Regions from separate parts of the Homo sapiens genome. Here region 2 is linked to region 1. Evidence: fine-mapped expression QTL. A gene starts in region 1. The other region holds a variant in brackets. All regions are shown on one strand. Distances are from middle to middle.

Region 1 (15,800 bases):
TCCCTTAAAGCCAATTCTAATGTAAGTGTATGTGTGCTGCTGTAAATAGGGTTAGAACCCTTTTTGCTCTAACTTAAATACCAATTGATTTTAGCCCAGGATAATGAAAATGCAGTCTTGCTCAGCAAGCGAAATGTAACCATCTGAACACAGCTCCTTAAGAGATATAAGAAGGGTGGAAGTGGGTGAAGGGTAGGCCCTCCAGAGTTCTCAGTTGTTGCGGGAAGTCTGGGACTCCAAACGGAGGGATCAGCTGAAGCCATGGCAGAAGTTCGTGGATTGTGAAGATTTCATGGACATTTATTAGTTCCCCAAATTAATACTTTTGTAATTTCTTATGCCTGTCTTTACTGCAATCTCTAAACATAAATTGTAAAGATTTCATGGACACTTATCACTTCCCCAGTCAATATCCTTGTGATTTATGCCTGTCTTTACTTTAATCTCTTAATCCTGTCAGCTGAGGAGGATGTATATTGCCTCAGGACCCTGTAATAATTGCATTAACTGCACAAATTGTACAGCATGTGTGTTTGAGCAACATGAAATGTGGACACCTTGAAAAAAGAACAGGATAACAGCAATTGTTCAGGGAATAAGAGAGATAACCTTAAACTCTGACTGCTGGTGAGCCAGGCAGAACAGAGCCATATTTCTCTTCTTTCAAAAGCAAATGGGAGAAATATCGCTGAATTCTTTTTCTCAGCATGGAACATCCCTGAGAAAGAGAATACGAGCCAGGAGGTATAGGCTTATAAACAGCCCCCCTCCAGGTGCGCCTGTCTCTTATGGTCGAGACTGCAGGGGTGAAATAGACCCCAGTCTCCCACAGCGCTCCCAGGCTTATTAGGAAGAGGAAATTCCCGCCTAATAAATTTTGGTCAGACCAGTTGATCCTAAAAACCCTGTCTCCTGATAAGATGTTATCAATGACAATGGTGCCCGAAACTTCATTAGCAATTTTAATTTCGCCTCGGTCCTGTGGTCCTGTGATCTCACCCTGCCTCCACTTGCCTTGTGATATTCTATTACCTTGTAAAGTACTTGATGTCTGTGACCCACACCTATTTGCACACTGCCTCCCCATTTGAAAATCCCTAATACAAACTTGCTGGTTTTTGTGGCTTGTGGGGCATCACGGAACCTACCGAAATGTGATGCCTCCCCCGGATGCCCGGCTTTAAAATTTCTCTCTTTTGTACTCTGTCCCTTTATTTCTAAAGTTGGCCGACGCTTAGGGAAAATAGAAAAGAACCTACGTGAATATTGGGGCAGGTTCCCTGATACTCAGTGGCGTGGAGATGTAACAAGCCTGGATGTGTGAGTGATGATCAGGCCAACAACAGTCTGTATTTGGAAGAAATATCAGATGTGAATGTTATGACCTAGGAAGCAATGGAAGTGAAAAATTATTCTTTTTGCCTTCAGACTCAATATTTTGTATATTTGAAAATTTGTCAACACAAAAAATACTAAGTTGTATACTGATTTGTTAAAAGCAGCAGCATGCAGTTAGGATGATATCTTTGGGGAAATGGCAGAGACCATCCAACATTCTGATTCTCCACTGCATCCAATTTTCTACTCTCAAAATGAACCCCATGCTCACCATCAACGGGATTGAATTTGAGCTGCTGAGAATTGGTAATAACCCCAAATTATCTTCAATTCTGTGAAATGGAATTTTAGACCAGCCTGTGACTGAAGCCACTGGGCATTACAGTGCCTTCGCTTTGTTCAACTGCCGCATTGTTTCTCTCTGCAAGAGAGGAAGGAAGGCTGGAGTACAGCTGAGCTTTCTGGCAGGCACTGGTGGAGTTACTCATTAACCTTCCCCATTCTTTGTAACTGGTGGCCTTAGAAGAGGGTTCAGGGTTATGTGTTTGGAACACGAGTTAGTATAAATGGTTCTGAAGCACTTGATTCAGACTGTGCTTTAAAAAATAGGAAAGAAAGTAGAAAGAACAGCTGATGGTTTGGAAGGGAGCCACCAAGCACCAAGAGGTGTGAGTTCTGAATCCGTTTCTCAATCTTAGCTGCAGGGCATTGGCTAAAGAGGAAGGTGAAAACTGCTGAGTCACTATCAAATCAATTGGTTTTTCTAATCCCCTGAGAGAAAAAGTACAGAGTTTATTGCAGCTTTAAAATGCCATGCCCCTCACGGCCAAAGGCATCTGAATTAAGGAAGCAGTATTCACAGCTGCTTTCTCCAGACATTGAGCTCAAGGACAGAATCTGAACTCTGCTTTTATCAGCTGCGAAAATCCAAGCATTCATTTCCAGCTGGTTCAGTGCCTATGTAAAAGTATACTGTGTACAAAAATAAGATTAAAAAGCTAACATTAAGCAAGTGTGTTTGTATGTTTTCTACAGTTCGGATTTCTGAATAATTTGATCCGACAGAAAAATATGATTTCATTTCTTTTCGAGAGAATTATATGCATACTTTCTAAATGCAAGAATAAATTCCTGAGCTCCATGTGACTTCAGTACCATCAGCTCTTTGGCAGCTTATGAGTATACAGCTTTTTAATTCTCACCTGGTCCCCAGGATATGGTTTACTTGTCAGAGTAGTTTTATGAGGTGCTTTCTCCTGACTCTGATTCTAGGTAACACCTGATGAGATGAACAGATGGTGCACCTCACTTCCTCTTACTGGGCATGAAGGAAAGAGAGAGAAGTCAGGGTAGAGATGAAACTACTGCTACATTTTTTTTTTCTGTGGAAAAAGAGTCTAATATTTCTAATTAACCTTGATGGGAACATAGAACATAGATTGTAAAGGGAACTTGCACATTATCGCAGTAGGCTGAATAATGGCTAATGGCTCACTCTGAAAGATATGTATGGCTTAACCCCTGAAACCTGTGAGTATTATCTTTTCTAGCCAAACAGACTTTTGCATATATAATTAAGGATCTTGGGATGGGGAGATATCCTAATTATTTGGGTGTATCCTAAATGTAATCACAAGTGTCATTATAAGAGGGAGGCAAAGGGAGATTTGACTTATAAGAGGAGAAAATGTGACGTGATTACAAAAGCAGAGATACATTTTTTTGAAGATCGAGGAAGAGGCTACAAACCAAGGAATGTGGGTAGCCTCTAGAAGAGGAAACAGAATCCATGGAAAAGGCAGGAAAACACAATCTCTCATAGAGTCTCCAGAAGAAACAGCCACACTGACACCTCGACTTTAGCCCAGTGAAACCGATTTCAGACTTCTGACCTCCACAACTTCAAGATAATACATTTGTGTTGTTTTAAGCCAATAAATTTGTGGTAATTTTTTACAGCAGCAAGAGGAAATCAGTTACGTAGAATAGTAGGTCCTGTCTCTGGCTAATCATTAGAATCACTCCAGAAGCTTGTTACATACAGACCCAGAGCCAGTGAATCAAGGATTTGGTGGTGGGGCCCAGAGCCTGAATATTAAGCAAGTTCTTCGTTTTAGAAATGAGGAAACCAAGGTTGGGAGAAGCTAAGCAACTTACTCAAATACATAGGGTATTTCATTTTAAATTTAATTTTATTACTTTATCTTTTGAATTTTCTTACCCCAGTTGTACTTTTGTGTAAATGTGATTTCATTTACGGCTTTGTGTTGACATATTCATTAAAATGAAGAAATAAAAGATGAGAAACAGTTTTAAAAATTATATAATGTTTATTGATTAGAATGAATATGATGCAATCTGGTTTTCTGTGTTCAGATTCCTGACCTCTGGAGTTAACCTTTCTTTGTAAAGATTAGACAGCAGGCAGGGAAGAATGCCTTTGAAACTGAGAGCAAAGACTGGCATGCAATTTACATTGATGTCCTGGTGCTGTGCATAATAAGTTGCTTAAACATGACAGCAGGATAGGATTTTACATAAAATTTATTTATAAATGGTAAAGATGTTTCCAACCTCTGCTGAACTTCCTCATAGAATGTTCATCAGAAAACAAAGTTTCTATCTACTCTTTCTTCCAAGACTTCAACTCCTACCACTGACATCATGACCCTCAGTTCTATTCCCCTAGCCCTGCCCACTCCCCTGAAATCCAGATCCATAAATCCAACCACCGCCTGGGTATCTCAGTTTGGCTGTCCCTCCATCAACTCAAATTTGGCTGACACAGTTTTGGATTCTAGAGCATGCAGGCATTCTGTATGTGCTGTGCCTTTGCACTCACTCTTCCCTCCAGACCCCGTCCTTCCTCACTTTGCCAGTTCCAACTTCTCTCTGAAGACTCAGTTTAGGTACAGGCTCCTTTAGGAAATTTTTTTTTGACTCTACCTAGCCCAGACTCAGTTCATCTACGATATTAATCTGCAGTGTCATGCACTAGCACAAAATATTTGCTGAATGAAAGAATGAGAGTTAACTTTTAGTCAGGCATAAAGATAAAAAACCAAAGTCTTTTACTCCGGTGTGGAGTGTTTTCAGGATTCCTACCAATTAGGAAGGTGTTTGATTCTTCAAACTCAGAAACACCTCCCCTTAACTGATGGATTCTTCAAACTCAGCATCAGTTAGAGGGCATTAGGGCACTTCTCAAACCCTGCATTCAGGGAAGATGTCTGTTGTGGGGTGGTCTGGCCTACTTGGCCTGAGCCAAGGTTCTGGGCAGTTCTGTTCAGTTACACATGCATGCGTTGAGCATTGATTCAAGCCTGGCCTGGGCACTAGGCATGGTTTTAGATATTAGGGACATATTCTGTTTTCCTTGCCTTAAGATACCAGTCTAGTAGGAGCCACTAAGGCCCCTTTTTGAGCCTGGACTTCGCATTCAAACATACCCTGCTTCTAATCAAGTCATCTATTGGCAGTGACCTTGGGCAAATCATAGTCTCTCCAAGCATTACTTTTCTAATTGAAACAAGAACCTCTCTCTATACCCCAGATTTATTTTGAGGATTATGAGTTAATTCATAGCTAAAATGCTTAGCACCTAACAGCACATAACCCACACATACTTTTCAATTGCGTATTACTAAAAAGAAGGAATGATTTCCTAGAGGAGGTGCTTCTTCTGGCCAAGGGCTGATTCAGAGCCTTAATTAACTAAATAGATCAAGCATATCTAACTGGTCACCGGAAGTGGTCCATGAGGCTGCAGCAATGGGAAGGTGTCAGAGCAGGGGTTGGGAAAAAGACATAGAGAGAAACGTGCATGTCCGTAGTGGAGGGGAGCTCTTAGGATGTCTACAGATTTCCAAGACAATAATTGAAATGAACAAAGGCAAGGGATGACCAATAAGAGCTTCATTTCTTTCCTTTATCACCTTTCCCTTGTTCTTCAGCTCCAGCTGTGCCCACAGACACCACAGGGAAGCCTCTGAACACAGGGGTTTGAACCAGGGCCTCTCTAAGTCTTTTCCAACTCTGATACCCTGAAGTTCTCAGAAACTTCCATAAATTTTGGCTGAAGAAGCCATAGCAAACTTGTCAGATGGTTTCTTACCTTTAACTCAGCCATTTTCTCTCTCCTCTATGTGTGGTGACTTCAGGAAACCCAGGCCCAGAGGATATAAAGCCACAATGCTTCTTTCTCCTTCAAACCACTCTTTGGATATTCCGGTTCCCACTGCTTCACTGCGCTTCACTGGTCAGTGCGTCACTCAAACTAGCTGAAAGAATTGTCTAACTCATACACAGGGACAAAGTCCAGCAAGCTTATTTAACCGGTTACACAATTGCCTTTGGTTTTTACAGTTTGTTCCTAAGTGTTTCCAGAGGCTTGGTTCCTCTTCACCTGAGGTAGAGATTGACCAATTATTTATTCCAGTTAAAAGTAGGCTTATTTCAAAAGGCAGAGAATTTGAAGCTATCGGGGAAAGGAACTGTGGCAGATAGTGCCTGCTGTGTGTGGTGGAGGATTCTCTGCTCAGTCCTGACTCAGGCTAGGAAGGAACAGGGCAGTGCTGAGTCTCCTGGAGAGCAGTGAGAAAACCCCCAGGCATTTACCAGCTGCAGATGTGTACACTGGGGTAAGATGTTTACACACAGCCACCTGAAGACAGGGACCAGGACCAGAACCAGTTTTCTGCAGGTGCCTCCCAGGAATGAGCTCAGGTTCTTGGGTGAACCATTCAGAGCCTGAGATATTTCACTTAGAGCAAACTGATATGTTTCCTACTGCTCCTTTTAATTTCTTAAAGTACGTTTAGTTTTCTTATAAATTCTTTAAGAGTTTTGTTTCCTAATGCCTCTATACTTCTAAAACAGACCAAGGGATTATTCTCCAGCCACCTCCTCTATGACTCCCTTGTTCTTCATCTTGGCCGCTCTCCTTGGTCATTGGCAGGTAGCAGCTTCATGACTAGTGGTGTTCAGAAAGGAGAAAACATATATTGAGTTTCTGCTTTTGTCAGATTTTTCCATATCTAACTTCACAAAAACAATCTTGTAAATTAGGCATTATCACAACTCAAATGCCAACAGATGAGGGAGGAAGTGTAAGTGAATAAAGTAGGCTAGCTGATTTTTCAAGATAAGATGAAGCTCCAATTTTTAACCATTGGTAATTAGAGTGAGAGAGACAGAGAAACCACCCTGTGGTAGATGGCAAAAAATGCTCCAATTCCTCCTATCCTTGTATGTGTGCCCCTTTGAATGTGACTTTGCTGTTCCTCCCATCAAGAGGTAGGGTCTTTTTCTTTGGCTAGTAGCAAACATGACACAGAGTTTGAAACATGCCTGTGCCTTAGGACAGGGCCCATTCTTGCAGCCTGAGACCACAGTGCAGAGAAGCTGGGCTGGCCTCCAGAGGTCCAGGCAACAGCCCTGCAAGCCCCACAGGAACTGCCAGACATGTGAATGAGGCAGTCTGGCTGCCAGGTGACTGCAGAACATGTGTGATCCCAGGCAAGACCAGCAGAAGAACCACCAGTTAAATCTGGCCCGAACTGCTGAGCCACAGAATTGGGAACAAATAGAATGGTGTATTTCACACTACTAAATTTTGGGGTGGTTTGTTAAGCAGTGATAAATAACTGATATAATCATGCAGGTTGAAAAACATGTGCATATTTGAAGTGGCCACAGGCTGCTAGTTTGAGACCCTCTGCTTTAGATAAATGGGCTTAAACAACCTCCAAGGGTCCCCAGGCTCCAGCATACTGCAGTAGCAGCAGAATTATTGCCTGTGTATGAGGTGCTAGCACAGACTGGGCCAGACCAAAGGGGACATGTTGATAGGAAACATGCTGGTAGCAAACCATGTGGACTGATGCCTACGGACCGGGCAGCTGATAGGAAACCTCAGCATATGTCAGCATAGACAGATGGCATTGTGGCATTATATAAACTATTCTGGAATTCATATGCAAACCTAGGAGGAAGGTAGGTGGAGGCCCTAGCTTTATTGAGGCTAAGTTTTCACTATTCCTATAACATGCAGACTCTGAAACTGAATTCGAAGAAAATATCTCCTGTGTATCTAAGTTTATGAGTACCTTGGGCCTTCAATCTCTATTGATCTTGGAAGTTAGCAGTTGGTCATTAGATAAACAAATGGGAGCTAATAAAAGACAAAGGGAAATCTTTACTGCCTTATTTTTCAACAAACTTTCTATGTTACTTCCATTGAACCAGTTGTGAAGGCAGATTTAAGAAGTGTTTCAGTTCTTTCCTAAGGTATGAGAGACTTCTGAAGGGGTAAGAAAGTGTTAACAGTTCCTTGACTGGATTAAAATTACTTTGAGGGGCTTGAAAATATTTAAAGTTGAATACATCTTTCACTAAACTTTAGGGATTCCTTCTAAAAGGAGAGAATACACACAGGGGATATTAAAATATTATTTTATTATTTAATTTTTTTTTTGAGACAGGTTCTCTGTCATCCAGGCTGGAGTGCAGTGGCACAAAAATGGCTCACTGAAGCCTCAACCTCCTGGGCTAAAGCGATCCTCCCATCTCAGCCTCCTGAGTAGCTGGGACTACAGGCACACACCACCACACCCGGCTACTTTAAAAATTTTTTAGTAGAGATGAGGTCTCGTCATGTTGCCCAGGCTGAACTTGAACTCCTAGGCTCAAGCAATCCTCCCACTTCAGCCTCCCAAAGTGCTGGGATTACAGACGTGAACTCCTGCACCTGACTTAATGTTTTTTTTTAGAGACAGAGTCTTGCTGTGTCATCCAAGCTGGAGTGCAGTGGCATCATCACAGCTCACTGCAGCCTTTAACTCCCAGGCATAAGCCATCCTCTGGCCTCAGCCTCCCAAAGTATTGGAATTACAGGCATAAGCCATCATGTCCTGCTGGGATTGGAGAATAAATAACTTACACAGCTACAGATAAGTTCTGATTCTATGTCTAATGGCTTTCCATTTTAATTAATGTAATTATACATTCATTTATTTAACAATTTTTGAAAACCATCACAACATAGTGTAAGTGCTCTGACAGGAAAGAGCCCAGGGATCTAGGGGAAGCACTAGTGGGCACGTAGCCCAGACGAGCAGAGCCAGGGAGGGCTTCCCAGAGAAGACTATGTCTGAGCCAAGTCCCATAGAGTAAGAGTTGGATAGAAAGTGGAAAACATTACATCCAGGAATTGCTACAAGGTAATGTGAAGCAGGGTGTGACAGGTCTACAGAGTAATCACTCCAAAACGGAGTTAGGCATCAGAGGACTCCAGGACAGATGTCTCCGAGAAAAAGATGGAACGGAGAGATTACCTGATATACTTGATGGTACTGAGCGAGGTTTTACACCTTGGTTGGAGTTTAGGGGTTCCATTCTTTGTCATTAGTTATTGATGACCTCGGTAAAGCTTAGTGATTAGCCAGCTGAGAAAACACAGTACTAGAGAGGGGGCTGTGTGTAAGATGGCAAGGCACTGGTTAGAAATAAATATATTTGGATTAAAAACAGAACCCAGGGGAAAAACAGTGGCAGTAATAAAAATGATAGCAATACATGAAAGACAAATACTTGTTTTGCCAACAGAAGACATGACAATCATCTCATGTTTAATTTGGCATATGTAGCTTTGAGTGGGGAGGAGTGGATCAGTTCATTAAGGTGAGATCAGGTTGAGGCAGTCAAAGATGCGCTTTGATGAATTCTGCTATAATGGCACTCATAAAGTACAGAGTTCACAATCTATATTCCCTACTTTTTGATGAGTTTATTTGTCTTTCTTAAAGGCTAGATCCTGACTTATCTGCATGAGAAAAATCTGGCTTGTCTGTTAAAAATACAAAATCCTGGCCTTATCCTATACATATAGAAAGGGGAGAGTAAGGGAAGAGAGAGGAAATCGTGGAATCTGCATTTTCAGCAAGCACTTCAGGGGATTCTTACACACTTCAGAGTTTGAAAGCCCTCCATGTGAGTCCTTAATGGAGGTGCAGATTAATTGTAACTGGATGTCCAATTCCTTTACTATGCTATGGAGCAGCCCCAGCTGACCCTAACATCAGATATTTTGTGTAGGCAAACATGTTGTGAAATATTTGAGACACAGGGTTAGACTTCCTGCGACCCTTCCTCTCCCACCACAGTGATTTAGCTCAGTCTTGGGACTGCGGAGAAATGAATTTCTAATTTCCTTCTCCTCCTTTCCCCAAAACAGACTCCTCCTTTGAATTTTAACATATATTAAACCAATGCAGACACCCTGTTAGACCTTTAAACTTCTTAAAATATGATGTCACCTGTGCTTTAAAAAATTCAATTAAGCCACCATCTAGTAACCCATACAAGGTCCTACCTATGGTGGGTGCTACTGCAAACTATTGAAATGAGGACTCAGAAACTCTGATTACAAGGAGCAATTAGGAGCTCTTCACCTCAGTCTGATGTCCCTGCACATCATTTCCATGAAGTCCATGTCAGAATGAACAGAAAAACAAGTGTCAGGGCACCTGGATTATATCATGAATGCCTCAAGTTTGAGGAATTCTAAGAACCCGAGCTAAAGCTAATATGGATCAACTCTTTTGGGAATAGCTTTTCTTAGAGCACTGTAGCGGAGAAGAGCTTTCTTTCTTCACCCATCACTAGGTTCACAAATGAGGCACCTATAACGAAAGACAGATTATTGAGAAAAGCACACACATTTATTTACTGTAAGTTTTACATGACAGGAATCTTCAGAAATGAAGACAAAAAAGAAATAGGAAAACTTGTGTATTTTTATGTACAGTCTTATGCAGAAGTATAATCAGAGGACAAAAGGACATAATCTAATGGTAATAAACTGTGGAGAACTTAGCAAGTCCTATTTGTCCAGATTCTTCTTGGTGTCTCTGTATCTGTGAGGATAAAGGGTACCTATGGAATGAAGGTTTTATGATCTACTTCAGGGAACAGTCACTTAGGGTTTATGGCCTGCTTCAGGGGAGAAGGGGTAAGGGGAAGGTATGAGAAACCTTGCTTCTGCAGTTTTCTCAAATAACAGGGTGCAATATTTTGGGGTTATGTGTCCTGAATCCCATCAACGTTAAGATGGAGAGACCAGCCCAAATCTTTAGTTGGATTCCAGCTAAGTCTTATACACCTAAGGGACAGAGGAGTAGTCATATATATGCCTTCATATCTGGTCACCTTCACAATGAGTCAGAAAATTGGTCAGACACCGAAATCACAACAGAAAAAAAAAATCTTTATTTCTACCAACTTGTCCCATCAAGAGAGTAAGATATACATATGTAAAGAGATGGAGTCCCACTCTGTCATCAGGCTGCTGGAAGGCAGTGGTGCAATCATGAATCACTGCAGCCTCAAACTCCCGAGCTCAAGTGATCCTCCTGCCTCAGTCTCCTAGAGTGCTGGGATTATAGGCGTGAGCCAGCACCTGGCCAATTATACTTTTAAAAAAATATTTTGACATTTATACTTGTTTATTATCTAAAAGCATTTTTATGAATAGTTCTCAAGAAGTCCTAGCAAAAATTGTGCTTCATTCTTTTTTGAATAACTCTAGCTAATAACATTCATTTGCGCAAAAAGCCTTATTATGCTGCTGCTAATAATTGCAACAAATTTACCTTAGATTATTAAAAACTATTTTTTCTTAGAAAACTATAATTCAAGGAATCAAGCTTGGCTGCAGAAAGTAATGGAGTTGAGGAATACTGTTAATTTTTCCAGATTGACCCTGGAGTCATCAGCAATAGTTTACTTTTATTATTTATTTATATATTTATATATTTATTTATTTATTTTCTTTTAGTTGGAGTCTCACTCTGTCACCTAGGCTGGAGTGCAGTGACACGATCTTGACTCACTGCAACCTCCACCTCCCAGGTTCAAGTGATTCTCCTGCCTCAGCCTCCCAAGTAGCTGGGATTACAGGCGCGTGCCACCAGGCCTGGCTAATTTTTGTATTTTTAGTAGAGACAGGGTTTCCCTATGTTGGCCAGGCTGGTCTCAAACTCCTGATATCAAGTGATCGACCCGCCTCCCAAAGTGTTGGGATTAAAGGTGTGAGCCACCGCGCCTGGCCTATTTTTATTTTTTAAATAAGATAGAAAATAAAAAAATCAGGATGAATTTTTTTAAAATTAAAAGAAAGAGGAAGAAAGAAGGAAGGAAGATTTATTTCTTGAAGGAGAAATACAAAGAGCTTAATTGGGTTAGGTCTCTGGGTAGCATTTGGTTTCTACTTCCCAACTGTACAGCCTATGCAACAACATACTTGTGACCAATTCTACATACAGATCATGATTTGCATAGCTTTCCTTTGTGTCAAAAAGAAACCAGGGCTATGTCCTTTCAAAGAGGAAGTAAAGAAAGGCTGGAGAACAGTCTAGCTGATGAAAGCTGCTTTAAAAATCCTTTTCCAAATTCCCAAGACTGCCTTTCTAAAAGGACTCTCTAACATTCTTATTTTAATATCCTCTTGCAGCATACCTTGATTTCCAAGATACTTCTGAAACCTAATTAAAATGGAACAGAAAGTGAATTTGGTGTTTTCCACCTATTTTTTAAATGAGAAATGAAAACTGTATATTTATTATTGTTATTTAAAAGTATGGAGCAAAATCAGGAGTGCAGAGACCTGCAGCAGAGCCAGAGAGAGAATACGGGTGATAGAGTGTTGAATAAATTGTTTTTAGAAATCAAATTCATATACTCAGGAAGAACTGGGGCAGAGAAGATTAAGCAAGCAAAAAGATAGGTTAAAAAAAGTAATGATGAACAATTACGGACACACACACACACACACACCATCCCCAAAAAGCTTTGGAGTGATTATGAAATCCAAGAATCCTAGTTCATAATTCATGTAAATGTGTTGCTGTGGAACTTATTTTTACTTCTCTCCATAAATACATTGTTGACACAGAATAATATTCTTAGTTTTCTGATTATAGCTAAGGGACATTTCAGGAGTTGACTTTTCCTTAAAAAAACAAATAGAGAGGAGGCTGTAAATGTCTCTCACTGCCCTTGTGCAGGTCTTAGATTTTACCCTACCTATTTCCAAACAGAAAACCTAGACTGTATATAGCAGCAACCTTAAGAGTGAGGGAGCTGTCAATTTTTCACATCATTTTACCAGAATTCTTTTTTTCTGGTATTGCTGTTCTCTATGTATTATTAATTTGTATTTATATTTAACTCTGGCTATTAGTCCGCCTCTTCCAGTCACTGAGCCATTTGCAAAGGAGAGAAGAGGGAGACAAGGGTTGCTATTATTAGGCATTCCTGTGTGTGACAATGGTGGAGACAATTAAATAACACCATTTTGCATCTTTGAAAATGACAGAGATTGTTTGGGGTAGACAACTCAGGGCTGGTTAACAAGACCGTTCCCCTCAAGAAGGTAAAACAATGGAGATACGTTTTTGAAGTACTTAATTAAGCTTTCAGCAATGAGTGTGGGAAAATTACAGACCCATAAAAACCCTCCAGTTCTAGGCAAGAGTAAATTTTCTCTGCAGTACACTGTCATTGCTCATTTACTGCATCATTTTGACAACATCTCATATTTACACAAGGCTTTTACATAATCTATACACAGGGACAGAAAGGTAAGGAACACAGAGAACAGGGACAAAGTTTGGACCTCCCGTATTGTCACTTCCTTTCATTTTTCCATTAAAGGGTAAGGCTGAAGGGTAGCATTTTAAGATGATTTTGTTAAAAGGCTGTGATGGTAATAATTGAACACAGCAAGATGAGCTGTGAAAAACTGCCACTGCTTGCTCACTCTTCCAAAGGATGAGTGTAATTCAGTCATAATGAAGGCTCTTTAATGTTCCTGCCCCAAATCTTTTCCGATCAGGAAAGCCTGGAATCTGTAGGCAAGAAAGATAATTGCATTAAGTCTCAAGCAATAAAAGTTCAAATACTAATAGTAATTTTTCCCTTCTTTTCCATTTCTGTATGTCAGCCTGCTGTTTCTTAAAAAAACAACTTTCTGAGGTTTTACTCAGAAAACCACAGATTAAATAATAAAAATAAATCTTACCCAAATGGAAAACATTTCCCAACAAATTGGTGATAGTGTCATCTAAATCAGAAAGAATGAAGGTAAATCTCATAATACCTACTAGACTTTTATAGAAATTATTTGTATTGTGACAGACCCTGAACGTATACTCTTGGAGTCCCAAGCAAATTATTTTCTTCTTCTATTTTATAATGTAATCTTATTCCTAGATTATATTTGTTTCCTAGATCCTTATTTTCCCTTTGTTCTGATTTTCTCCTTTTGTATTTAACAGGATAGAAGGAAATCAGTTGCTTGTGCCTATAAAGGGCTTTCCCCAACTTTTTAAAACTACTTCTGAACTTAAATTTGGAAATCACCTATCAAAATTTAAGAATCTATTTTATCAAGAAAAGAGATACCAACCTGATTACCTTCTCTTAAAAAGTATCTCTTCTCTATGACCTGTGAAAAACAAAGATTTTAAAGGCTTAGCACACATACCTGCAAAAAGTGGCTAACTGCAACGACCACTAATGGTACTAAAAGGAATATATCCAAACTAAGAATCTTTTCCATAGCAGTAGACATGTAGTACAGTCAGCTAAAAATCTGGTGTTAATGAGATCAGAATTGTGAGAGTATTTCCATAAAAGCCTGCCTCATTCCAAAACGCATTAATGATAGATCAAAAAATAAATGAATAACAAAAACTAAATAATGATAGAATGATATAAGATCCTATGCAATTCTTAGAGTATGACAGCAAATCTGACTCTAAGTTTCCTAGCAGTCAGTCCCAAAAGGTACTAAACAGCATCCATAAAATAAAAAAAGCACTTGCCTGCTACAATAGTCTTGTCTATTTCTTAAAGAGGGGACTGTTTAACATAGCAAACCACCACATCCCTATAGTAAGTGGTGACAAATTCTATATGTCCTCAATATAGACAGATGACACAACATCAAAAGCAGTCTAATGACTGTTGTAAATTGTCTACTTTTTTTTAACTAACTGCACCCTTACTTCAGTAGTTTCAGAATTACCTGCATTTGATAAGTAGAAAAAACATGTTCAAGCAGCAGATGTATCTGCACAAATCCATCACCATTATTGAAAAGAAACCCTCAAAATATATGTCCAAATGTAATAAGTTTAAGAGCACCATGTTTTCATTTTTTCCCAAAACTGCTGTAAACCCTAAAGAGCACCATGTTTCCAGATGATGAAAAACATTTTCAAGAATAATAAATTCTGTTCTGACACTTGAGAAACTGCAATGGTTACAGAGGAAGTATTATAAATGGTCTCTGATTTAGGATGGCTTGACTACGATTTTTTGACTTTATGGTGGTGTGAAAGCAACATGCATTCAGTAGAAACTGTACTTTGAGTGCCCATACAATGGGCACTTTTTTCACTTTCAGTATAGTATTCAATAAATTACATGAGCCATTCACAACTTTTTAATAAAATAGGCTTGTGTTAGATGATTCTGCCTAACTGTAGGCTAACATAAGTGTTCTGAGCATGTTTAAGGAAGGCTAGGCTAAGCTGCGATGCTTGGTAAGTTGGGTGTAATAAATGTATTTTTGACTAACAATGTTTCCAATTTACAAGGGGTTTACTGAGATATAACCCTATCGCAAGTTGAGGAATAGCTGTATTTTCTTTACATAGACCTGCTGTGATAAGAAAAGTTAATCGGATAATAATACAGATCAGCTGGAGATGAACTCTAAGACATTCAAATCTGAAATTATGCAGCTAAGAGTTCCTCTGAATGAGAACAGACCAGCTTGCTCTCTCTGGTGCCACAGCCATTCATCCAGATTCAACACCAAGACCATTCATCCAGATCCAAGACCAAGACCAGCTTGCTCTCTCTGGTGCGACAGCCATTCATCCAGATTCTTGCTGTCTTGGAGACTATAGCTGGATTATTTTTAGCCACAAGACACCAGGGCAAAGTTGCATTCACTTACCCCAGAGGTAGAAAAGTTGGTTTATCATTAGTGTACATCTTAAAACAATCCCACAAAAACCAAGAAGGAGACTGATTCCCTTTCCTCTCTATGGCAGGACAGGAAAATCTGATTATTCTGGAGCGTGAGGAATTACTACTAGTTGAAAGAGGCTGGAGAAGGAGTTAGACTTCCTTTTGGAGAAGAAATCTTTTTTTTTTGTTTGTTTCAGATGGAGTCCTGCTCTGTCACCCAGGCTGGAGTGCAGTGGTGCGATCTCGGCTCACTGCAAGCTCCACCTCCTGGGTTCACGCCATTCTCCTGCCTCAGCCTCCTGAGTAGCTGGGACTACAGGCGCCCGCCACCACACTCAGCTAATTTTTTGTATTTTTACTAGAGATGGGGTTTCACCATGCTAGCCATGATGGTCTTGATCTCCTGACCTCGTCATCTGCCC
Region 2 (8,580 bases), 38 kb before region 1:
TCTGTTTCCTGGAACAGAGAGTACCTGCTGTGATGCTTCTCCAGGTAATTTCAGCCTAGAGGAGCTTGCAATAGACACAGTGCCTGGGTTGGTGAGTCCAGGAGAGGGGAGAAGGCCTCTAAAAGTTCCAACTCCAAGGACTTGAGATTTCAGAGCAATCCTAACATAATACTTCCTGGTCCTGTCCTGGGGTAGAAGAGGATCAGTGTCCTGCTATAGGAAGGTGGTCCCTTCTGTATCTATGGGTCCGAAAGTGCTAAAGATTTTAATGAAGGCGCTACTCATAGAGGCGTGGTTAGGGTTAACTGGAATGACTAGAAATGTTGAGGTATCTGAGCCTAGCAATAGCGGGAAGACACTGCTATTCCTGGGCATGTGGAATGAGGAGGGAAATATTGTTATAGGACTTTAGCAAGAGCTAGAATTATAAAGAAGGGTGTTACCCAGTGGTGTGCTGGTAAATATTTCACAACTAGCACTCTGAAAAAAATACATAAAGCATTGACATATAGTGTTTACTGATTTCTAAGGTGTATACAGTCTCACCATGATGATTTTCTAGCTACCAGTATGACATCAACAAATACACAGTTGGACAGAAGCGTGCATATCAGCTTTTGCAAGTCACTATGAATCAGCTCCAGCCCACCACTAGGGCTACCCAACAGGAACTGAGGTCATATGGGGGATGCAGCTACTGTCAGAAACACAGTCCTAAACAGCGAGGAAGCAGGGGAAGAAATATCCCAATTTGTCTTTCCTCCTGCCTTGTAGTTTCCTGTGGGTTGAACCCAACAGAAACCAGCTGGCTAGGGAGCCCGGGTGATACAGTCAACCTTCCAGGGCACAGATCATGGCAAAGAGGGAGAATGGATCAGTGGGGACTCACACAGAAAATAACCAGCACAGGGTCCACTTGGAAAGTGCAAACCTTTCGGAGGAGCTACTGGCTGCTTCTACAATTGTGGTTCTTTAACAATTGTATGTAAACAATGATCTGGGGAACATGCTTAAAATGAATGTAGGTTTCCATGTCCCATCTCCAAAGCTTATCATTTTTTGCAAGGCTAGAGTAGTATCTAAGGATCTGCATTTTTTTTGAGAGGGAGTCTTGCTCTGTCGCCCGGGCTGGAGTGCAATGGCATGATCTTGGCTCGCTGCAACCTCCACCTCCTGGGTTCAAGCGATTCTCCTGCCTCAGCCTCCCAAGTAGCTAGGATTACAGGTGTGCACCACCACATCTGGCTAATTTTTGTATTTTGGGTAGAGACGGGGTTTTGCCATGTTGGCCAGGCTGGTGTTGAATTCCTGACCTCAGGTGATCCGCCTGCCTTGGCCTCCCAAACTGCTGGGATTACAGGCATGAGCCACCATGCCCAGCCTAGGATCTGAATTTTAAACAAGCCTCCTTGAGGATTTCTGATGCAAATAGCCCCCGAATTTTGAGAGACCTTGACCCAGAGAATAAGAGAATAACAATATGTCTGCTTCAGGGGTTAATTTTAAGTGCCAAACTGGTTGGCCTCGGCTGGTTGGCATTATCTCTAGATGCTGCCTAAGAAGAATAACATACCTTGGAAAATATAAGGAATAAGTCAAATAGACAAAATGAAGCAAACAAATAATGCTAAACAGAAGAGATCTTTGGGTTCTTCTTATTATATGATTATTTTATTCTAATATATATTCAGTACATTTAGTAATATATTATGTTATAGAGTCCATATTACATTGTTGTTATTATTATTTATTAATATCTGTGCCTTTGCTTGTGTCCTGAATTGCCAGCCTGGTGGTACAAACCAAGCCAAGCTAATTAACTGAATTCTACTTGTTTTGTAGAATTGCTTGTATTTGAAATAGGGTGGTATTGGAGACTATAAATCTTGGCTGATCTGTTAACTCATTTACTTTTCAGAACATATTATGCTGCCCATATATTATGTTTTCCATACCACTTATAGAAACCTACATATTGCTAATATTTTCATTGCTTGGTGAGTAGAAAGGGCACAACCTTTGGAGTCAGACAGATATGGGTTCAAATTCTGGTTCTGCCACTTACTGTGAAATTGGTAAATTATTTATCATTACTGGCCTTTTCCATGACTATGAAAGTATAATTGACTACTAGAACTATTTGCTTTATTTGTAGTGCCGTAGTGGTATGATAACAACGAAAGGATATATGTAAAGTTTGTAACACTCGCCTTGGCAATCAGTAAGTGCTCAATCACTCTTCATTTCCTCCCTTGCCTGCCAACCCTTTTACTTTACCTGTTTGGCAGCAAACAGCTTGCCCTGGTATTTATTAATGACCGTGTAACCACCTGGTACTTGGCGATCCTCATACCAGGCAATGGGTATCAAGAAATCACGAGGATTGGCCAAGCCATTGGCCCCTAGAAAACAGTAACCCAAAAGTCTTTTAGAAACTTCCAAAACATAGGAAAGATGCCCATGGTTGCATGAAGAGAAAGGCTTTCTTTCATGTCAAGAGCTACTCCACAAATTGCTTTCATTGCTCAAAGATTCACTGCATTTCCAGTCTGGTACCTTTTAGGAAGACCCAAGGAATCTGGTCAGAAAAAAATTCACAAAAACCAGCATTACTTTCTAAGGTTGTGGAGTGACTATGGTTAACAAAACAATCTTATATGCATTATCTTATCACTACAGGTGAGGGGAAGGGAAGAGAGAAAGAGAACTGAAAAGAGGAAAAGGGAAGATCTGATAGAACTCCAGAACTTTTTCTTTTGAAGGAACCCTTGAATATTCTAGAAGTCATTGACAGTCCTTGATCTCAGATAGAAAGGGTTACACGCTGTTGCCTAAGGCATGCCTCTGCTCCCTAGACAGAACTCAGATTCCAGTCTGAAAACGGTTCTCCAGCCTGAAAAACCCTGTCTGCCACTCAGGAAGAAGTATTTAGGACCTGCCTGCTTACCTTTGCTTAGGAGTGAGTGTTTCCTCCAGAGAAAGGAAATAAATCAAAAGACCAAACATGAAAAACTTAAGTGCAAAAACAGTTTAACTCTGAGAGGAGCGAGCTGAGGAGTGTTTTATCATTTCCAGCTCCTGGACTTAAAAAAATAAGTCCCCGGCTGGTTAGCAAATTATAGATATTTTCCAGAGGGTACATGTTCCACGGAACCTGGAGGCTATGCTGACTATAGAGCAGCAGGAAGCCAGAGCAGAGTGGGAAGAGTGGGAGGTGAACAGGATGACAGACGGCCCACCACGGCTCCAGCTGCCTCTTGCTGCCTCCCACCTTCCTCTGCATATTTGGATTCCTCAGAGGAGCTGACCAGAAGGCACACACTGGCCTGTCCCTGTTTGCTCTAAAAAGCTGTTGACAAGGAAGGGAAGAATTGGGAGATGTGACCAAAGAGTAAACCAAGGGCCAATTTTCCCAGCCATTTCTTTCAATCCAAGAGACAGTTTGAGAACAACCCCTCCTAACATTTTCACTTCCTCCAGCTTGCCAGAAGAATGGGGGCTGTGGAGACCTTGGTTCACTTTGGAATGTTTTAATCTGCCTCCTGGGGTGTGGTTTCTAGATCTCTCATAGCACTGAGTGATGTGTTTTTTTGACTGCTAAGTGTGTGGATTTGGTGGGGTGTACACAGAGGTTCATAGACTATGTGTCACCCAGTCCATCCCTCCTTTCCATAGGAATACAGCCCAGGGCATTTTTATGGCCTTCCCATTTTATACAATATGCAAAACAAAAAGCAATCCAAACCAATCCATTATAAATCTCACTGACTTAACAAAAATATCTTCCTCCTAATCACAAAGCTTATTCTCACTTATATGCTTTTGCAAAGCTGTTCCCTTTCCTCTTTACTCTCCTCAACTTTTCATAAAGAATTAGTCAAATTCTCATCTCTTCTGTGGAGCTGTTTCTGGTGACCCAAGCCCACAGTAACCCAAACTTCTATATTCTTTCCTGTACACACTATGCAACCAGAAATCTATTACATGCCGTCTTTATCTCCAATGTCTGTATACTATTCTAGAGAGATTTATAATGGATTGGTTTGGGTTGCTTTCTGTTTTGCATATATTTTCTGGGAAGACACTTGGTCTAGAGAAGAATTTGTCTAGAGAGAAAAGTGGAAGTTTGAGTGAGACAGCGAAGGGAGAAGGATGTTTAACTTTCATGCAATTATCTGAGTCCTACATCTCAAGCGAGGCTTAGAGGCTTGTAATGAAGATTTACCAATTGGTCCAAGGTCAGGTAACTCAAAGTGGACACCATAGACCTCCAAGATGTAGCCCCTGGTCTCCTCAAAGACATCTATGCTGAACCGCATTCCTCTCTGGAATGGAAAGCAGACACTGGTGTGCCCTCTGAAA[T/C]CACAGCTGTAGTTATAAAGAAGCTGCCCAGAGCCATAGCCCATCCCACATGCAAAAGTAAAGCTCTTGTTTGTTGAGCTGCTTGGGAGGTGACCAGAGCAAACATGAAAAACTGAATTTTTTTAAAAAGAAATTTTTAAAATTCAGTTTAAAAAGAAAAACTGAATTCCTAATCACACATGTGACCCAAGCCAATTCTAGTCTACCCTCTCATTGGGTCCAGAGATAATGGTAAGCCTGATTTAGCCACACTAAAAAAAAAAAAAGTCCACCTTCACTGCCTCTACTGCCATTAGTGGGAACAGGGCCTTATCCAGAGTATATGTAAATATTTAGGAAAGTGCAATGACAAGTGGTCTTTCCTTTAGAATTATGTGCTATATTAAAAGAAAGCAGGCACCCAAGCTTGCTTACTCTTCAGCACATGGAACCTTCTGCATAACTCAGATTCCCTCCTCGTTGCCCAGACATGACAGAGAAATTTTAGAGTTGGAAATAGCAGCAGCTGAAACATCTGACTGCTCCCAAATTAGTGAGAGGCAGGGAAGAGAAGGGGACACATCACCAACCTGAATGACGCAGATCTCATTGGGCTGTACAAGCATCTTGCCAAACTCGGTGTAAATGAGAAGGTTCCCTTTCTGCGGAACTGACAAAAAAAGACAGGGCAGTGGTGAGCAATTCTTTTGGTGTGATAACCATTTCATGAACAGGAAAGGCTTAAGGCTGCATTTGCTTTTCCATTCCAAATGCAAAGAGCTTTATTGAGTCTCTTGGGGAAAAAGATAAATTCTGACAACTTAGATTAGCTATTTTCCTATCTAGAAGAATGTGAATAAAACAATGACTCTGCTTTTTTGGTCACCAGGCAAGGAACTTGTATATGCACAATTTTGTGACATGGTCAAAAAGGGGTAGCAGAAATAGGATGGAAAATCACCCATTTCTGATAGTTCCAGTGAAAGGCTGACATTTGCTTGTGTGACATATACACGAAAATGTTGATTCCAAAATATTGATACTAAAAAACCATCAAGTATAATAGGCAGACCAGAACAATCTCTGATAGACTTTACATTTTAGATGGTCTCATGAAAATTTGAATTTAAATTGCAGTTACTAATGATAAATGGGCTTTTACTGAGAGAGTTTCAAGGCAAATACAGTTACCGTAATAAGTTAATCCCATTAGTATTAGTCTTCATTTCTTTTCAGCTGCCCAGGTCTCCCACATCAGAAAGGTCCAGAAGAGATGGGCAAAGACAGAGAGACAAGGAAATAGAGTAGGGGCTTTGAGGTACACTAGAAATCTTTTCCAGACCACCTGTGGCCTCTAGACCTCAGTCTCTGGATTGCACTAAATGAAATAAGACAGATTGGAGAATGAAGGAAAATAATGTGTATAAAATTAGAAAGCAGCTTGCGGTTAGGGGTCAATTAACAGTGAGGGGGTCTGAAGTCTTCAGAACTCACCAATCAAGAAGTCCCCATCTGAATTGTAAAAGCATCTGAAACATATAGAGTAATTCTTGTGATTTTCAGTTTTAACATTGTCTAGACAAATTACGTCATAACACAAATCATTGTTTAGTGCCTATGTAGCAAGCTCAGAGCTGGGTATAAAATGGGGAGCAAAATGACCCAGGCTCTGCCCTTGTGGAACTTAGAGTCTAGTGGGGAGTCAGAGAGCAATCAAATAATTACAGAACAATATCTTTGCAGACTGTAATGACCCTGTGAAAATCAAGTTTGAGGGAATGAAAGAATAGCGACTTGGTTAGTTTGAAGAATCAGCAAAGGCTTCTTCAAAGAAGGGACACATTTGACCGGATATCTGAAGGTGTTATCTAGGTGAGGGTTTGGAGAAAGGAAAGAATGTTCCAGGCAGAAGGAACAGCAAGTGCAAGTGCTTAGAAGGAGGGCACGCGGCAGCTTGAAAGAAGTGAATGAAGGCCAATGCGGCTCAAGTGGAGAGAGGGGAGGTGGCCTGATATGAGATTTGACCCAAAGAGAGGCCTCCAGAGCCTTGTCATAGGGCTGTGATCTTGTCCCTGATTCATGGCTCACAAGGTCGCTCAGCCAGGAAATGTAGAGTTGGGCTTTGGACACAAATGGTCCAGTTCCAGAGGTAGTGTATAATAAGGCAGGAATGCCATTTGCATACTTTGTTTTGCAAAGCCAGTATATAAGCTCCTCTACTTAAGAATTTTAAGCTTACACAGAGCTGTTAGCTGAAGCCAAAGTCGGGTAGCCTGCTACTAATGGGTGGTCCTAATGGAAACTCACACACTGTGACCTGGGACTCAAGAACAGCCCTGGGGAACCTTAGAAATTAAGGATATTCAAAGGCACATGTTCTCAGGATCTCCTGAGGGCTGGGTCATGGGTCACTGGTCACTCATATTTGGCTCAGAATACATCAATTCAAATATTTTACATATTAATAGTTTGACTATTTTTGTCAACAATAATTTGGCACCTGGACACATTGGGCCTCAGAGAAGACTCAGAACCCTGAAGGAGTTGCCTGAACTCAGAGCTAAGGTATCAGCAGGGACCTATTGAAAGCGCCTTCAACTTTGGGCTTCTCCTCTGATGGAACTGTTAAGTCCTCCTGAGCCCTGTTTGGTTGACAGTTCTTGATTTTTCCCTCCTAGGAAGCTCTTGTTTAGGTTCCTAATTCTAGTTCACAGGTCCATTCTAAAGGATTTCTCCATTGTCTTTTTCTTCTTTTTCTTTTTTTTTTTTTTTTTTTTTGAGATGGAGTCTCACACGGTTGTCCGGGCTGGAGTGCAATGGCATGATCTCGGTTCACTGCAACCTCCGCCTCCCGGGTTCAAGCAATTCTCCTTTTTCAGCCTCCTGAGTAGCTGGGATTACAGGCGCCCACCACCACGCCCGGCTAATTTTTTGTATTTTTTAGTAGAGATGGGGTTTCACTATGTTGGCTAGGCTGGTCTCGAGCTCCTGACCTCGTGATCCGCCCACCTCGGCCTCTCAAAGTACTGGGATTACAGGCGTGATCCACTGTGCCCGGCCTCCGTTGTCTTTTTCTAAAGACAACAAGAATGACTCCCTTTTGGGTACCCTGTTTGGTTTCCAGTTTGGAGGTGTATTCTAAATGGTCTACTCCATTGTTTTTTCTCCCCAAATTTAGCTCAGTTGGCTTGCCTGCGCATTCGTGTGACTGTCATTTTTGTGCATAAATGAGAGACTGAGCTCCTCAGCTCTGAAGAGAAAGGGCATTTTGTTCTTCCCAACTGAAAGGCACCCTGGGTGACTAGGGGCTGAGTTGCAGTGTCTGAGGGATTCATCCCCTGTGATGTGCAGTGGCGCTACAGGGAACCCCCCCAAAAATAGTTTTGTCCCGGAAATACATATAAGAGCTGATCACTTGGCATTTTGAGGCCTCTCAGAGGTGCTAGATCTCTGGAGAGAGAAACTGAGACAGGTAAGAGGGTGGAAACGACTCGGTGGTGAAACACTGTGGAGTCCTGCCTACATTCAGTACACCAATCCACCACCCACAAAACCCCTAGGTCACAGCTCAGTTCCTCCTTTTAAGAAAAAAAACGTGGGAAACAAATAATCTAAGAATGAGGAAAGACAAGGAGAAAGGTGCCTCTACTTGCAAGTGTTTGTGTAAAATGGAAAAGTTCAAGGGTATGCCAGAGTTTCTAGTACTCCAGCTGGTTACATATTACAGTCTGTTGTGCACATTTTAAACCAATGGGAAAATTGTATCATTCAGAGCCCAAAGGTCAACCTGCAACTACAGAGTTTCTAAGTTCTCTATTTCTCTGTTTTCTTTTCTGCCTGCTTTAAATCTGCTGTTACTTTTCTACTGAGATAAAAACCACAGTTTGGATCTAATGTACACCTTATATGTGTTGACTGATGTCTTATGCCTCCCTAAAATGTATAAAACCAAGCTGTAGCCCAATCACCTTGGGCACATGTTCTCAGGATCTCCTGATGGCTGTGTCGCAGGCCATTGGTCACTCATATTTGGCTCAGAAAAATCCTTGAAATATCAAACAACAACAAAAGCATATTTGGACTCAGACTTAAAGTCAAAATGCCTTTCGATCTACTCCTGCATTCCAGGGCTCCATCCTCCCTTTTCTGTTTACATTGTTATGTGATGTGCTTGTTTATATCACTGATGTTCAGTCAAGATAAATGCCTTTTGTCTCATTCATTATCATTGTCAATAAA

The links. PIP is the estimated chance that this variant, and not a neighbour inherited with it, causes the effect.
Region 2: its variant is the best candidate, but not a certain one, in a credible set for the expression of HGD in whole blood (TOPMed, PIP 0.75).

The regions. Positions count from the first base shown.
Region 1 is chr3:120,676,645-120,692,444 of GRCh38, forward strand. HGD (homogentisate 1,2-dioxygenase) reads right to left here and starts at 5,595. Exons shown (of 14, transcript NM_000187.4): 1 at 5,453-5,595. The coding sequence starts at 5,467. RABL3 (RAB, member of RAS oncogene family like 3) reads right to left here. Exons shown (of 8, transcript NM_173825.5): 7 at 13,805-13,843; 8 at 8,294-13,244. The coding sequence ends at 13,179. RefSeq lists an enhancer at 363-1,313.
Region 2 is chr3:120,642,042-120,650,621 of GRCh38, forward strand. It overlaps HGD (homogentisate 1,2-dioxygenase), which reads right to left. Exons shown (of 14, transcript NM_000187.4): 7 at 5,836-5,870; 8 at 4,932-5,011; 9 at 4,226-4,325; 10 at 2,278-2,402. Among named protein-coding and RNA genes, the nearest start is that of HGD, 36 kb to the right of the region's middle. RefSeq lists an enhancer at 1-955. The variant T/C (reference allele first, on the strand shown) is at 4,363.